Linked DNA regions of Homo sapiens. The protein of the gene in region 1 interacts with the protein of each later gene in a pairwise test. Each region holds a gene or a part of one and is shown on either strand. Other genes may lie near its edges.

Region 1 (6,970 bases):
GCAGGTTGCCCTCTTGGTAACAAGGATCTTACCCACCTCACAGGGTTGTTATAGTGGTCAAGAAAGATGGCCCATGCTATTTCCGGAGACTGCCAGCCAGCCTGGCTGCAGCAGTGGCCTGAGTGAAGCAGGCGGAGACAGTGGTGCGGAGAGCCCACATCTAGATGGGTGCCTGCCGCTCAGCAGCTCTCTTGTTGCCATGCAGGCTGACAGTTGCCAATTTTTTTTATTTCTTTTTCCCAAGAAAAGTGAGAAATCTGGATTTTTATGAGAAACCTCCTGATTTCTATGGATGGCAACTGACGCAAAGATTTTTGTGTTTGCTATTTAAACACAGTGCCACCTAAACAAAACCTTGAAGTAGGGGTGATATGCTGCATAGGCCATCAGGGTGCATGTTCTGAAGTCTTCCCTCTTCTCTAGGCCCCTTCCTGCCTTCTTACCTCTCTGCCCCCACCCTCTGCCCACCCCCGGCATGTCTGGCACCCCGTAGGGGATTTGGTCCGGGGAGTTTCTTCATGCTCCACTGAGATCAAGGGGATACAGAGCCCAAAAAGGATGACTTGTTATGAACGAAAATGACAGAGGCAAGCAGTTTAGAAAGTACCAGGTTTTATTATCTTTTTATCAAAAAAAATCAGTAACAGACAACAGTGTGAGAGGTGCCTACAGAGGAGGTGCTCACTCCAACACAGCCCAAGGGGAAGGGCACTGGGGGCAGAAGAGGACCCAGCCAGCTGGGACCCTGGGTTGCAGTGGTGACGGGAGCTAATGGCCACTGGTGCAGCAAGGGAGGGTGGTTCCCCTCACCGCAGCCACTGGGGTCAGGAGGAGACACGACCTGCCCAGGCTAAGCCACCAGGCCTCCCCTCTCAGGAGAGGGAGGGTCCCAGACAACAGGCCCCAGCTGGGGCCTCATCAGCCCTCCCCCATTCCCCCCCCCCTACCCAGGGAGACAAGGGTCGTCCCAGCACAGCTGAGGCTGTGACTCGTTAAGCCAGTTTAGTTCTCTAGAATAGTGCTGTCCAACAGATGGACATGCTCTCGCTGTCAGTACAGTAGCCATGAACTACATACAGTGACGCCTCTAGAAACGTGGTTAGTGCAACTGAGGAAGGAATTTTTAATCTTATGTGATTTTAATTGGCTTAACTTTAAACAGCCGCATGTGGTTACTGTATTGGATAGCACAGCCCTAGAGCCTGAAGAAAGCAAACCAAAGAACACCAGCTGGGTCCCAAACAGAAGGCAGAAAGGGTAGAACCATCCACCTCAACTATTCCAGCCCCATCAGAAGGCACCAGGAACAGGGCAAGAGAAAAAGGCAAAAACCCACCCAGCCACATGAAAATTCACTCACTCAACCACCCAGCAACATCAAACTGGAAACACCACACTATTTCCTGAAAAAAATATATTTATCTATTTTTCTAGAACCAAGGAAGAATAATAATATATTATAAGAACACAGACACAAATATCCCACCATCCCCTTCATTATATTTTGGGATCTGCTAAAAAAAAACTATGTTTCGGCAAAAGCTATTTTATAAGAGGAAGCAGCTTCAGAAAGGGCCAAGGCCATGAGGAGCGGGGTTTAAAGTATAAAAAAAAAACTGGGGAAGGGGTTTAATGAAAGAGAACAAAGAAAGAAGAGGGGAAGGGAGGCCCTATCTAAAGCTATAAATAGTAAAAAAAAAAAAAAAAAAAAAAAATTAATAAAAATCATCTCTCCGGCTCTTCTCTCATTTTCAAGAAACAAACAAAAACAAAAACAAAAACCATTAAATACAAACTTAGCAGGTGCTGTGGAAATGTGCGAGAGAATGAAGACACCTCGGCACCTCCACACTCTTGCCCAGGCAGAGATATACACTCTGCACAAAGGAATGAACAGTTAAAAAAACGAACAAACACTAAAAATAGATTTACAAATATTCTATAAATCCATTTCAGCATAAACTCTCAGCTCTTTTCCCCATCCTCCCCCCCAAATAAAAAAGGTTGATTTCCAAAAGTCACTTGAAAGAGCCTAGAATGGCCCCAGGTATATACCACAGAGATTCCCGTAGTGTGATCACAAGTACCCATTTACAGAAACATCTCAAGGTGCAGGTGGTTCTAGTTCCTTCCCCCATTTCCTGGCAGAGAGACCGGCTGTGAAAGGAAGGGAGGAAGGCCACTGGGGGAGGACCTCCAGCCAGGACTCCACACAACATCCGTTAGCCCCCTGGCTTCAGAGGAGCTCTGGATGAGGCATGGTCAGTATGGGCTTGAGGGCGGACCTAGATTCTTAACTGGAAGTTTAAGAAGTGATCCAATCCCAGTCTTGCCTTCAGAAAGGCCAAGTTGAATCCATTTTTCTGCCAGGGCAACTGAGGCCCAAAGCTCAAGAAGAACCTGGCAGAACAGTAGAAGACAATGTCTCTTCTGAACACTTCAAAGGTAATCAGAGCTGGAGATACTGACAAGTCAGTATTAGGTTGACCTCACCCTACCCTAATGTCCACCCTTCAAAATCCCCTGGCTTCCCTCCCCGCTAAAGTCCAAGCCAGTGCCCACAAGCAAGCTTCACGCGTAGAACTCATTGGTGGGGGCTTTCTTGTAGATGGGTTTCTTGCCCAGGTCATAGCTGCCTTCATCCTTCTTCTTCATACGGTACATGAGCAGTAGGATCAGGAAGACGGCAAAGAGGATGCCCACGATGCCACCCACAATCAGAGCTGGAGAGGAGGAGAGAGAAGAGGCGGGGGTGAGAGCTCCTCATCAGGACCTAAGGATGAACCCCTCTTTCCCCCACTGTCAGTTCTCTTACAACCAGACATCCTCACCATCACCACTGCCTGTGCCAGGCAAGCTGATGCCTTATTTAAGTTGACCTCATGACCCCAGTTATAAGAAGTGGGTCGTTGGCATTTTAAGTCACTGAAGACCACAGGGCTAGTGGTAAGGCCACTCCTTTTTCTTTTTGAGACGAAGTCTCACTCTGTTGCCCGAGCTGAGTGCAGTGGCGTGATCTCGGCTTACTGCAACCTCCACCTCCCAGGTTCAAGCAATTCTCCTGCCTCAGCCTCCTGAGTAGCTGGGATTATAGGCACGTGCCACCATGCCCGGCTAATTTTTGTATTTTTAGTAGAGATAGGGTTTCACTATGTTGGCCAGGCTGGTCTTGAACTCCTGACCTTGCCCATCTCGGCCTCCCAAAGTGCTGGGATTACAGGCGTGAGCCACCGCACTCGGCCAAGGCCACTATTTTAACCCACATCTGCCTGAATCTAAAGCCTAGGCTCTTTCCAAACACCACGCGGACTCCCCTGCAACAGTCTAGCACTAACTGAACCAGGAACAGGAGAAAACCGTAGGCTATGGAAATCCCTGTAGACATATTTATCCTGCAGTCCTTAGCACAGGGCACTCTCTAGCTCTCCCTGTGTGCATATTTACCTATATAGCCTACACTTCATAGACAGGTATGTACATTCAAAGTGCACACATGCAGAACATACTAATTCCAAACTCTTATGTTACAATTACATACAGAACTCAGTAGCTAAGGCCTGGTTTCCACTCCTACCTCTCCTACTTCCTGGCTGTGTGATTTGGGGCAAGTTTCCTTCATCTCCCTACCGCAAAATGGGAAGAGCCATACCTTTCTCATACATTTGTCCTAAGGATTAAATAAATTAATCCACTCAAAGTGCTTAGAACAATGCCTAGTGCATAGCATATTCTCAAGATTCATTAACTGTAAGGGTTTAAGGTTTATATCTGTGTCCCGAACCCCCTGAATCAGGTGTGCACAACAGGAGGTGCTTAATAAATGATACTTTCAGGCTCCGAGAGGAGAACCTGCCTAGTGTTGGGCAGAGATGGGCTTCTAACAGTGAGTGGGTCTGGCCTGTCCACTCTGCCAGGTGGCCTGAATGACTCATTCCTGTTTGCTAGGGGCAGGGATGCTTCATAGAATCCCTTCTGTGGCAGATTGAGTTCCCTAATTCGGTCTTACTCGGGCTAAGAAGATTAATTTTCCATCCCTGCACACACTACAAATCTATGTACACAATGGGGACAGAGTGGCACAGAGGAGTCAAGCAAGGTTCTTTCTTGGGTAAAATCCTATGAAAAAGCAACAAAAAAGTACCCCCAGGAGGTGCCAGAGCAAGCACATGGAATATCAGGCATCAACCCCATTCTTGTCTCTATCACCTTTCCCTCTGATGACCCCAGTTCCTCCACGAGGCCCTGGGTCTGCGCTGGGATGCCCCACAGGGTCAAGTTTCAAGCACAGGCTCAGAAGCTGACTGTGGTCCTCAGTCCAAATGCCAGGTCTGCCACTTCCAGCTTTGTGACTTCGGATAAGTTCTTTAGACTGAGTTTTGTGTTGTACGGACTCAATCAGGGGCACAGGAATCATACAGCATACAGCAAGCATTTAATAAGGCTCCTGGGTGCTGATTAAAGCTTCTGGAATGGGGGATTCCACCACACCAGCTAACAATATAACTTTTCACATGAGGCTCTTAGGCTTGTATAATTCTCAAATGGAAGATTAAAGAGATAACCTGGCTTCAGTTCTTTTCTTACTATGTGGCCTAAAGCCTGGGCCTCAGTCTCCCCATGTATAAGAAGCAGGTGCTTAGATTAATCAGTGGTTTTCAAATTTTTCTTTAGAAGCAATAGCACCTTTAGTTAATTAGAGCAAAACCTTATGCAAATCCAAAGTCTTATGCAAATCTTTTTACTTCTGAAAGAAAAGTAAAAAGAACTTTGGCTCAGATACCAGGAAGCCAGGGTCAGGGCTGAGGTGGGCCCAGTCATCAGGGGCTGTGCTCCCAGGAACCCTCTTTACAAGAGGCAGGTGAGACCTTCCATCTGTCCTGGATGAAGCCAGGCTCTGTCCCTATAGCTCAAGCCTCCTTGGAGCTGCTGGCTCTGTTGATTCCCAGGAGACAGGAGTTACCCAGCATGGGCCCAGGGTGCCCACTTGCCAGGCCGGTTCATCCAGGCTGGCCCTCGGCCATGACCTTGGGGAGTTCCCTCCATCCCTTTTGTCAACACCTGGGACAAAGCATTCCTCACCGCACATTCCAGTAAAGAACTCTCAACTGAGGCCAAATCGGAATAGCCCTTTATAGTGTGCAAAGTTATTTCATATTTTATTTTTCATGGACTCATTATATCAACCCCAGAAGGTATCACTGTACCCATTTTACAGATAAGGAAACTGAGGCTCATCAAGTTCGAAAGCTTCTCAGCCAAGGTCACAAGGCTGCCAAGTGATAGAGTAGGGGGAGGGGAAGCTAACCCAATTCGAAGGAGCCTCCAGACTTACAAGGGAAATTAACTTTTAATGATTAACTCCCAGATGCCAAACTTATACAGTGAAAGTCCTTTGCAAAATAAATGAGAAAGACTTAAGGCAGAAGAATGACTCAATGCCTATTTTCCAGAAGACTTTGATAGGTGCTTTTTCCTCTCCCTCCACCAGGCTGCACAGTCAGAGCCACCCCATAAGGAAGGTGTAGTCTTTCAATGTTCTAGGGCAACCTGAATAGGCAAAAGGAAGGGGCACCAAGGAGCCTCATGGCTGGAGGCATCCCTGCCTGCAGGTGCTCTCCCCCGCTGAGCCCCATTCCACCTTCAAGGCATCTTATAAGCAGCATGGGGACTTACCTGCCAGGACCTCCGTTCTCTCAAAGATGTTGCTGCCCTGCACAGTGCTGGACATTGACACCTTGTTGGACACATCCTCACTCTCTTCAACGGGTGAGATTCTCTTGGGGATAACCTCATTCTCCTCTAGTTTCTTGGGTTCGGTGGGGACTTGGCTCCCAGACCCTGCCCTCTCAGGGATATGGTTATCTAGAGGCACCTGGATGGGCGGAAAGGAGAAGAGACACTCAGCGTATTTTGGAAGAGACTCAGGGCAGGGGACAGGGACATTCAGCCAGGCAGAGAATCTGGTTCTGCCATATTCAGCTGAACCATATGGTCCTGGAGCAGGAATTGGCAACACTGTCTCCACAATTATGCTGCCAAAATCCTTATCCCCAACTTTTTTAGTATATCTGTCCCAAATGAAAAATGAATGCACCCAAGGGAACAGGGAAGCAGGTGCTCTCCTGCACTGCTGGCCACTGGTTATTCTAGAGCAACCACTCTGGAAGCAATTTGGCAAAACCTTAGACATCGCTTGCCCTTTAAGGTGGCAGTTTTGCCCTGGAAACTCTATTGTAAGGAGCTCTTCAGAGACTACGTGTAAAAGATGCTTGCTGCAGCTCCTCTGCCTATGAAGTAGCCATTCTTTTATTCCTTTACTGTCTTAATAAACTTGCTTTCACTTTACTCTATGGACTCACCCTGAATTCTACCTTGTGCAAGATCCAAGAACCCTCTCCCTTGGGGTCTGGATCGGGACCCCTTTCTGGTAACATCTTTCTGGAGAACCACAGAAGGGATGAGACGGAGGAGACTCCCGAATCAAAGGAAATGGACTGCAGCACTGATTGGAGGACTTTGGATATCACCTTTTGTCAGAACTAAGAGTTATGAATGGCCCTCACCATACTGGCCCTTTCTGACTGAACCCCTCTCTACCATGGATACAAGAGGCCCTAATAGTTAAGCAGGAATATCATCACCCTATTCAGCATGAAGAAGTTATAGAAGATGGATCTTTGTCCCTCTGCAACCCTTAGGATTAAGGGTTTTCTTACAAAAGGGAGGGGGAAAATGTCAGGTGTTTGAACCAGAGTGCCTACATCTTGAATAGGGGCTGGGTAAAATAAGGCTGAGACCTGCTGGGCCGCATTCCCAGTAAGTTAAGCATCCTACGTAACAGAATGAGATAGGAGGTCTGCACAAGATACAGGTCATAAAGACCTTGCTGATAAAACAGGTTGCAATAAAGAAGCTTGCCAAAAACCACCAAAAACAGGATGGCAATGAAACTGTTGGTCTCACTGCTCAT
Region 2 (8,077 bases), on another chromosome or scaffold:
TCCTGAGTAGCTGGGATTACAGGTGTGTGCCACCACACCTGGCTAATTTTGTATTTTTAGTAGAGATGGGGTTTCTCCATGTTGGTCAGTCTGGTCTTGAACTCCTGACCTCAGGTAATCTGCCCACCTCGGCCTCTCAAAGTGCTGGGATTACAGGCATGAGCCACCGTGCCCGGCCCTCTCATTATCCTTTTAACAAATATTTTGAAAATTATATATTCATCAGTCCTTACTTGGAGGAGCCAGATGGATCACGTAGCCATCTCCTATATACAGGGCCCAGTGCTCATAGCCAAGGCGGAAAATCTCAATCAGGTCTCCAGGTTTGGGCTCTTGGTGTGGCTGCAACAGAAAAGCCAGAGATGGAGTACCCGGCCTTCTAGGCAACAGCAGAGACCCTGGCTGGGGGAGCTGCAGCTCATCCTGGAGACGCCTTGCTGATGTTCATCAGCTGCTAGCCCCATGAGATCCTCAGCCCTGCTGTCACTTTCAGAGGCTCTTCTCAGTGGGGGCACTGGGGGCTGGAAGCCTGGAGAATGATCTTGTGGGATGGGAGACAGAAGGACCGTCTGGGCGCATGTGTGACATGTGTGTGCTGTGTGTGTGCATGCTGAGGATGCAGATGTGTGTGCATGTGTGCATTGTACACATGCTCCTCAGTAGGCCGACTCAAGAGCCTGCATGAACCAGCACCTTCACTGAGGCCAGGAGCAAGGCTGGGAAGGTGAGTCTTGAGCTCTCCGCCCTCTGCAGACTGACCCTCAGTTCCTCATCACTCCTGCCCTGTGCCTCTCCATGGCCCCAAGAGCCACCTCCTCCTCAGACCTTGCCCCATCCAGCCTCAGGACACCTATCTCTTGGAGATGACACCCTGGGAGACAGGAGCTCACAGCATCCTGCTGGGACCTGAGTGGGGTCTTGTGGGGCCCCCCAGCTCCCAGCACTGAGGGGGCTCTGCACTCACAGAACAGGCCTCTGTGGGAACTTGTCCTACAATAACTGCACCATCTCCACAGCCCCAGGGGAAGGCATGATCATCCCATTGCACAGATGGGGAAACTGAGGATCAGAGAGGTGGCAGGGCTTTCCTGAGAACACTCAGCTGGAAGGAGGCCGAGCTGGTTCTTCCCTGCACACCCCTCACCCTGGTTCCTGTCTTGGCCACCTTCTTCCCCTTCCTCACCTCCTTCCCACTTCTCCATGTCCTGCCCCAGGGCATAGCAGCCTCATGACTGGAGGATTTTTCCATTTTCACCCTCTCTGTCCCTGTCCTCAGTGGGTGACAGCCTCCTCCTCCCTCATCCCAGGATGTCCCATCATAGACCTGGGGTCTGCTCTCCTTTGCCCTCTTCCTCATGCCAATATCCAGTCACTAAAACCAATCAATGTGGACTCCGGAAGCTTCTCCTTGTTGGTGTGCTTGTCAATATCCCATCCACTGACTTGGTTCAGGCAGCCCCATGCCTGCCTCTGTGACCCCCACAACCCCCTGACCAGCCCCTGCCTCCTGTCCCTGCCACTCCATATCCAACTCCTCAGAACCCATGGTGGCCTTCCCAAGGGCACATCTGGCCATGACCGTCCTCTGACCTCAGGGCCCAGGACACACCCTGTGGGCAGCTCCCAGGCCCTTCCTGACTGGCCCTTCCTCACCCTCCTCTCCCTCCCTGGGCTCTGCACCCACAGGCCCACTGAGTGACATCCCAGCCCCTCACTACTGCCCTGGCTCTGGTCTCTGCTGCTCTGCACATCTGGTTCTCCCTGCCTCCATCACTTCCCTGCAGCCACTCTTCCTCTTCCCCTCCCTCAAACCCCCTCACCTGAGAAGCTGCCCTGATGGCCCCAGCCTGGCTCAGCTGACCCGCCACCCCACTCCTAGGACCTGGGTCCCCGGGGGCCTCTGCTGCTCTCTGCAGGGGTCAAGTTGAGCTGCAATTCCCTGTGCCTCCCTGTGCCCCTCTGGGCTGTGAGCTCCAGGCAGGCAGGATCCTGTGTGCTCCTCCCTCCCTGCACCTCCAGGACCCAGTGAAGGGCCTGGCGTAGAATGGGGCAAGGAAATAGACAAGGAAGAGGGAGGAGAAAGGAGCAGGGCCAGGACTCCCTCCCAGCTCCTCCTCTGTATGTCAGGGCACCACAGGAGATGGTTTCCATGTGGGGAGAGAGAGGGGCTTTTAACTGCAATGCTGAATGTCTAAAACCACAGTCAAGGTACTGGCAACCTCAGCTGGTGGCCAGTGAGATATGAGCTTTGGCCTGGGCTCCCTGTTAAAAGCCCTGATTTGTTTTGGCAGCAGTAAAGCCCTTCCCCAGGATCAGGTGGTGCTGTTGGAGTGGGCTGCCCTCCAGAATTTGCAGGACTCCTTCCCGGAATGGTTTTGTTTCTAGTAATAGCCTGAGCCCCGCTGTTCCTTTTTAGTCACACACCACCGAGCTCAGCCTGCTCTCCCTAGAGCTTCTGCCAATCGGTACATCTGGGCTGATAGGAGGAGAAATTTCAGTTTTCAGAAAGCTGCTGAGATTAGAATGCACCTTAGAAGGCTGGATGATGCCACAGAGGAACGAGGAGAGAGAAAGCATCGTTTGGGGCCGAGAAGGGACTGAGCCCCAGTCACAGCAGAAGCAGACGATGTTGGGATTTGCTTGCTTCCCACAACCCAGAGTCCCCCACCTGCCCACACTCTGGCTTCTCCTCAGGCTGAGGTAGATTTGACACCCGGCACCCCACAGCTCTCTACTACATGGGAGTCCCGGGCTCCCCGCACTGTGCCAGTTACGCAGAGGAGGTGGACTCTGCCCAGAGGACTCCCTGTCCAGCTGGGCAGATGCACTTTTAAAAGACAAATACAGTTTTCCATGACAGCCTTCTAAAGACGAGCTCTGGAGCTGTGTGCCCAAGGCCAGGAGCCTGGACTGAGGCCTTTCCTAGGGGGAGCTGCCCAACTGCTGTAGAGTCAGTAATGCAAAGCCCTGGGAAACTTACCGAAGCCATCTCGAAGCCAAGAGGAGGTCTGGTGCTCCTCTTGTTTGTGGATCAGCTTTTATGCTGAAGGAGAGAATTTCACTTTCACTTTCCTTTTGACACTGTTTCAACCTCACTTAAATACTAAACACTGTTTAAAAGAGACAACTGTTTAAAAAGGAGCTATTTCTCTAGATGGAAGGACTAATCATTTCTTACACAAGCCATGGACTCATTGGTGCTTTAAAGCCACCTTGGGAGCAGCCAGAGTCGAAGGGGAGCCCTGAATTTCTGCCCTTGCTTGAGAAATAAAGGTCTTTTCTTTTTTTTTCTTTTTTGTTTGTTTGTTTGTTTGTTTGTTTGTTTTTTTGAGACAGAGTTTCGCTCTTGTCACCCAGACTGGAGTGCAATGGTGCGATCTCGGCTCATTGCAACCTCTGCCTCCCGGGTTCAAGTGATTCTCCTGCCTCAGCCTCCCAGGTAGCTGGGATTACAGGCACCTGCTGCCATGCCTGGCTCATTTTTCCATATTTAGTAGAGACGGGGTTTCACCATGTTGGCCAGGATGGTCTCGATCTCTTGACCTTGTGATCTGCCTCCCCGTCGGTCTCCCAAAATGCTGGGATTACAGGTGTGAGCCACCGCACCTGGCCAAAATAAAGGTCTCTTCTAAAAAGAACCCTGGGCAGCTCTTCCTACTCCAGGAAGGGGAGGCATTCGGAGGCAGGGAGATGTCAATCCCCAGTGCACCCCATAGGACATTGTCTTGTAAAGACACCCAGAAAATATTGGGCCAGAAGTCTTGGGAGAAGGCCAGAGGGGGTGTTTCATTCCATGGGGATGCCCTGGAGGTGAGGGGTACCTTAGACCATGTGGAGCCTGGGAGCTCATGGCCCCATTAAAATGCATTTGGGTGCAAGAAGCAGAACTAAACTCAAAAGGGCTTCAACAGCCTGGACACCCATTGTCTCGGTAACAGAAAGGCAGGAAGAGGGTGACTCAGGTTGGGTTTAGTGGCTCACCAAGGTCACCAAGGACTCAGCAGGCTGTCTCCATTGCACTGGTCCTGGGTCTGCACTGTTGCCCTGCAGGGACTCCCATGGCTGTAGCAGCCTTGAGTGGCCCATTTTTACCTGGCTATGCCCAAAAGATGGAGGGAAAGATAATTCTCATTTGTCTTTTTTTCAGGGAGTTAAGTCTTTCCCACAGTTCCCCAGATGACCTGTTCCCTTCTCCATTGGCCAGAACTGGGCCATATTTTCACACCCAACCAGAGGCCTAGACAGGTGGATCACTTGAGCCCACGAGTTCAAGACCAGCCTGGCCAACATGGCGAGACCCCGTCTCTGCTAAAAATACAGAAAAAAAAATTAGCCGGGCATGGTGGCATGTGCCTGTACTCTCAGCTACTTGGGAGGCGGAGATGGGAGGATCGCCTGAACCCAGAAGTCAGGCTGCAGTCAGCTGAGATTGCTCCACTGCAGTCTAGCCTGGGCAACTGGAGTGAAACCATGTCTCAAAGCAAAACAAAACAAAAAACCCCCATTTCTGTTGTTTAGGTTAGCATGCCTCTGGGTTTCACTCAAAACACTGTTGAACGATGTTGCTGTGTTTGGGCAGAGCTTCCAGGGACCGCTGTGGATATCATGAGGAAGCCTCAGAGCTTTCTCGGGCAGAGCTTCTACAGGTGTCTTGCCGTGGTCAGTTTCTTTGCTGTTTTTATGGCCCTCTGCAGGAGTGTCCATGGTCATTATCTCAGCCACCTTTTGGTTTCAGTTTCTCATCAGGTCTTGGGGGTGTCTGGCCACAGCAGATGTTATCTTATTACCTCAGTCCTTTATACCTATGTTTATCATTTTGAGGGTTCAGCAGTTTCACTGTGGGCTGAGTCACTTGTCGTAAGTGACTCCATTTTGAAATATTTAGGATCACAAAACTCTTTAAGGGGGCCCCCACAAGAGTCTGCATTCAACAATCCCAGAGTCTGGGTTTTTGCCTTGTGGCATAATAAAAATTTTTATTTTTAAATAAATTTATGCCTTGTAGCATAATAAAAGTTTATTTATGCCTTATGTGGCATGATAAAAAAATATATTTTTGGTCTTTGACCCCAGTTCCAGACACAGAGGTCCTAAGACCCTTGGAATTTCCTGAGTGATAGGATGTCATGTTATTCAGAAGGAGTCTCTGTCAAACAAATCTGAGTTTATGCTAATGAGGTGGCTCTTGGTTGAGGAGGGAGAGCTGGATAACTTCAGGTTGGGGACTGATCACCATTATTTAATCAGTAATGTCTACATTATGCAGCCTCCGTAGAAACCCCTACATGACGGGGTTGGGAGAGCTTTGGGGCAGGTGAACACAGATGTGGTGGGAGACTGGCCTGGCTGGAGAGGGCATGGTGGCAAAGATTCTCTGTGTGACCACATTTTAGTCAGGTTCCCAAACCTCTTCCTAGGCACATCTGTACTTCCTTGTAAAATCTAATTTTAGCAAAGGACCCTGCCAAGTCAGTTTAGCAGGAACTTCCCACCCTCAATATCTGACCGGGTTCATCCTTCTCACTGTCCTCCAGGTGATGTCTGATCACCCCGGCCTGTCTTCAGCAAGAATCCTGTTAGTGTGGTTTAACCAGAATCTCTCTTGCCCCTGAGGTTTCCTCTTTGTAATTTTGCATCCACTGACCTGTATGCTTCTCCTTGCCTATGAATTCCCACTTGCCCGTGCTGTGTTCAAGTTTGAGCCCCATCTCTCTCTCTTGCTGCAAAATCCCAGTGCAGTGGATATCAAGCTTGTATCATTAGATAATTTTTTCTTTAACAATGGAAGCTGTGCACAATCACTGCCCCCCATATTAGTTTCTTCTTAGTTTCTTCCATGTAGCTGTTGCTGAGTTGTATCCTTTATAATAAACTGACAATCATAAGTAAAGCAGTTTTCTAAATTTTGGAAGTTGTTCTAGGGAATTATCAAATTTAAAGGGGATTTAGGGGGTCTCCACCATTTGTAGTCAGCCAGGTAGAAATGTGAGTAGCCAGGGAACTCCATTTGTTGCTGAGCCTGGAGACTTTACCTGTGGAGGCTGAGCCTAACTCTGGATAGTTAGCGTCGGAATTGAGTCGGATTGTTGAACATGCGGTCAGTGTTGGAGAATTGCAGGACTGATTGATGTGGACAAATGACATGTATTTGGTTGCTATCAGAAGAAACCATACATGCCCACTTCTGTTACTCGAAAAAAAACGGGGATCATTCGTTTAGTAACAAACAACTTTTCATGAGAACACAGGTGTGGATCAATAGCAGTTTTATTACTTGGCACAAGTAAGGAGGACACTGTGAGGATTCTCCAAAGCAGTCTTCCCTACGAAAAGTGACAGGAGGGTTTTATGGGTGATGGAGAGGGGAGAGGGTGCATCGGCACATGCAGAGGAGGGGTCCCAGTTGCACAGATGCAGTGAGTCATCGTGCCAACACATAGGTTGCATGCTATGGTAATGAAGCTGTAGCTCCTCCGGGGTGGAGACTTTAGCATGGTAATGAGGAAAGTTCACTCAGATTCATCTGTAGGTTGCTGGGATCTGTTAGGAGCTGGTTTTAACCAACCACATGACTGCATTCTATGCAAGGTTTAGGAAGAAACAGGCTACAGGATGGTAGGCTGTAAAAGGCTGATTGCTGAGTTGATTAAATTCCTATAATCCCTGGAAACCCTTGCTGTCTGCTTACACTTCCAGTTCATTGCAGCTTGTGCTGAGGTTGAAACAGCTTGTGGTAGATAGTGTCAGGTTTTAGCTTAGAGTCAGTTCCAGGCAGCTGGGGTCTGTGAATGCAGGACTCCAAAACAGCCAGTGGCCTTTCTTCAGCAGCACCAAAGCTTAGATGCTGCAGGAGTGACGGCTGTATTCCAAGTGACAAACAAGGCTTTCTGAAGCCTGTTCTGCTTTGTCAGACTTGGAGTCCAAACTGACCCACATCAGGATGGATGGTCTGCTCCAAAGGATCAGACATCTAATCCCACAAGAGCACATTAGCAACGGAGACTGCCTCTCTTTCTCTATTGCCTCTTTTTTTCCTAGAGGCTCCAATAGGTAACAATAATAGCAGAAATAATCAGTTATGAAGACTGATTTGTTTTTAATACTCAAAGAGTTTAAATTCCAACCAGCCCACTGACAGCAAAAATCTAGGAAGTTGTGCTTTACCACCAACACTTTCTTCTTGCAGCTTTCCCTGATTGGGATGATATCTCTAGCATGTATGAAATTACAAGCATATGATATTTTACATTAATTTATATTGTATATCTAGATGCAATAGCTGCTGTAACCCAAAAAATATTTGAGACAGCTTTCAGTCAAAAATTTAGAGATTTATTTAGCTAAGGTTTAGGACACATCCAGGAAAAAAGGAACAGAAAACCATAGGAAACATCTGTGATTCGTGCTTTTTCCAAAGTGCGTCTGGGGACATCATTATTTAAAGGGAAAAGTGTGGGCATTAGGGGAAAGAGAAAAGGGAAAAAAAGGGAGGGTAGATAAAAGAGGCAAGTGGTTGCATTCCTTTGAGTCTTTGATCAGCATTCACTGAATCTGCATTTTACATGTGAAAGGAGGGGGTAGAGGAATAGTTAATTATGCATTCATTTCATGCTTAGTGAATCTGGATTTTTATATAAGCAGTCAAATATGCATTTGTCTCAGGTGAATGGAGGGATGACTTATAGTTCTGTCCTTTCTCCCATACCTGTGATGATAAGCTGTCAATTTACATCATCAGGGTGTCATTCAGCAGAACTGTTTTAGGGTGAAGATCTTGGGGCTCACAAAGAATTCCCTTGTGAGCAAATTGTTAGGGAGTTATATAGCTTTTTATTTTTGTAGCTATCTATTTAGGAACAAAATGGGAGGCAGGTTTGGGTGACCCAATTCCTAGCTTGAATTTTCCCTTTGGCTTAGTGAGTTTGGGTCCCGAGATTTTGTTTTCCTTTCCTGCAGCAAAATAGAAAGCCATTTAAAAATATGTTTTTTCATTGCAAATTTATTTGAAGCCATGGCAGCATTCAGTATTTAGATGTTGAGAAAGACTCTGGCTGGAATTTGGGACAAGGAAATGTTC

What was found.
Region 2: the proteins of SDC4 (region 1) and PLAAT4 interact in a two-hybrid assay, tested with the Homo sapiens proteins (one study listed by BioGRID).

The regions. Positions count from the first base shown.
Region 1 is NC_000020.11:45,324,693-45,331,662, forward strand, and holds the end of SDC4 (syndecan-4 precursor), read right to left. Parts: intron 5,873-6,970; coding exon 5,674-5,872; intron 2,724-5,673; coding exon 2,572-2,723; 3' UTR 596-2,571; downstream 1-595. UniProt on the Homo sapiens protein: Cell surface proteoglycan which regulates exosome biogenesis in concert with SDCBP and PDCD6IP.
Region 2 is NC_000011.10:63,531,781-63,539,857, reverse strand, and holds the start of PLAAT4 (phospholipase A and acyltransferase 4), read right to left. Parts: upstream 3,051-8,077; 5' UTR 2,990-3,050; coding exon 2,981-2,989; intron 343-2,980; coding exon 234-342; intron 1-233. UniProt on the Homo sapiens protein: Exhibits both phospholipase A1/2 and acyltransferase activities. Shows phospholipase A1 (PLA1) and A2 (PLA2), catalyzing the calcium-independent release of fatty acids from the sn-1 or sn-2 position of glycerophospholipids.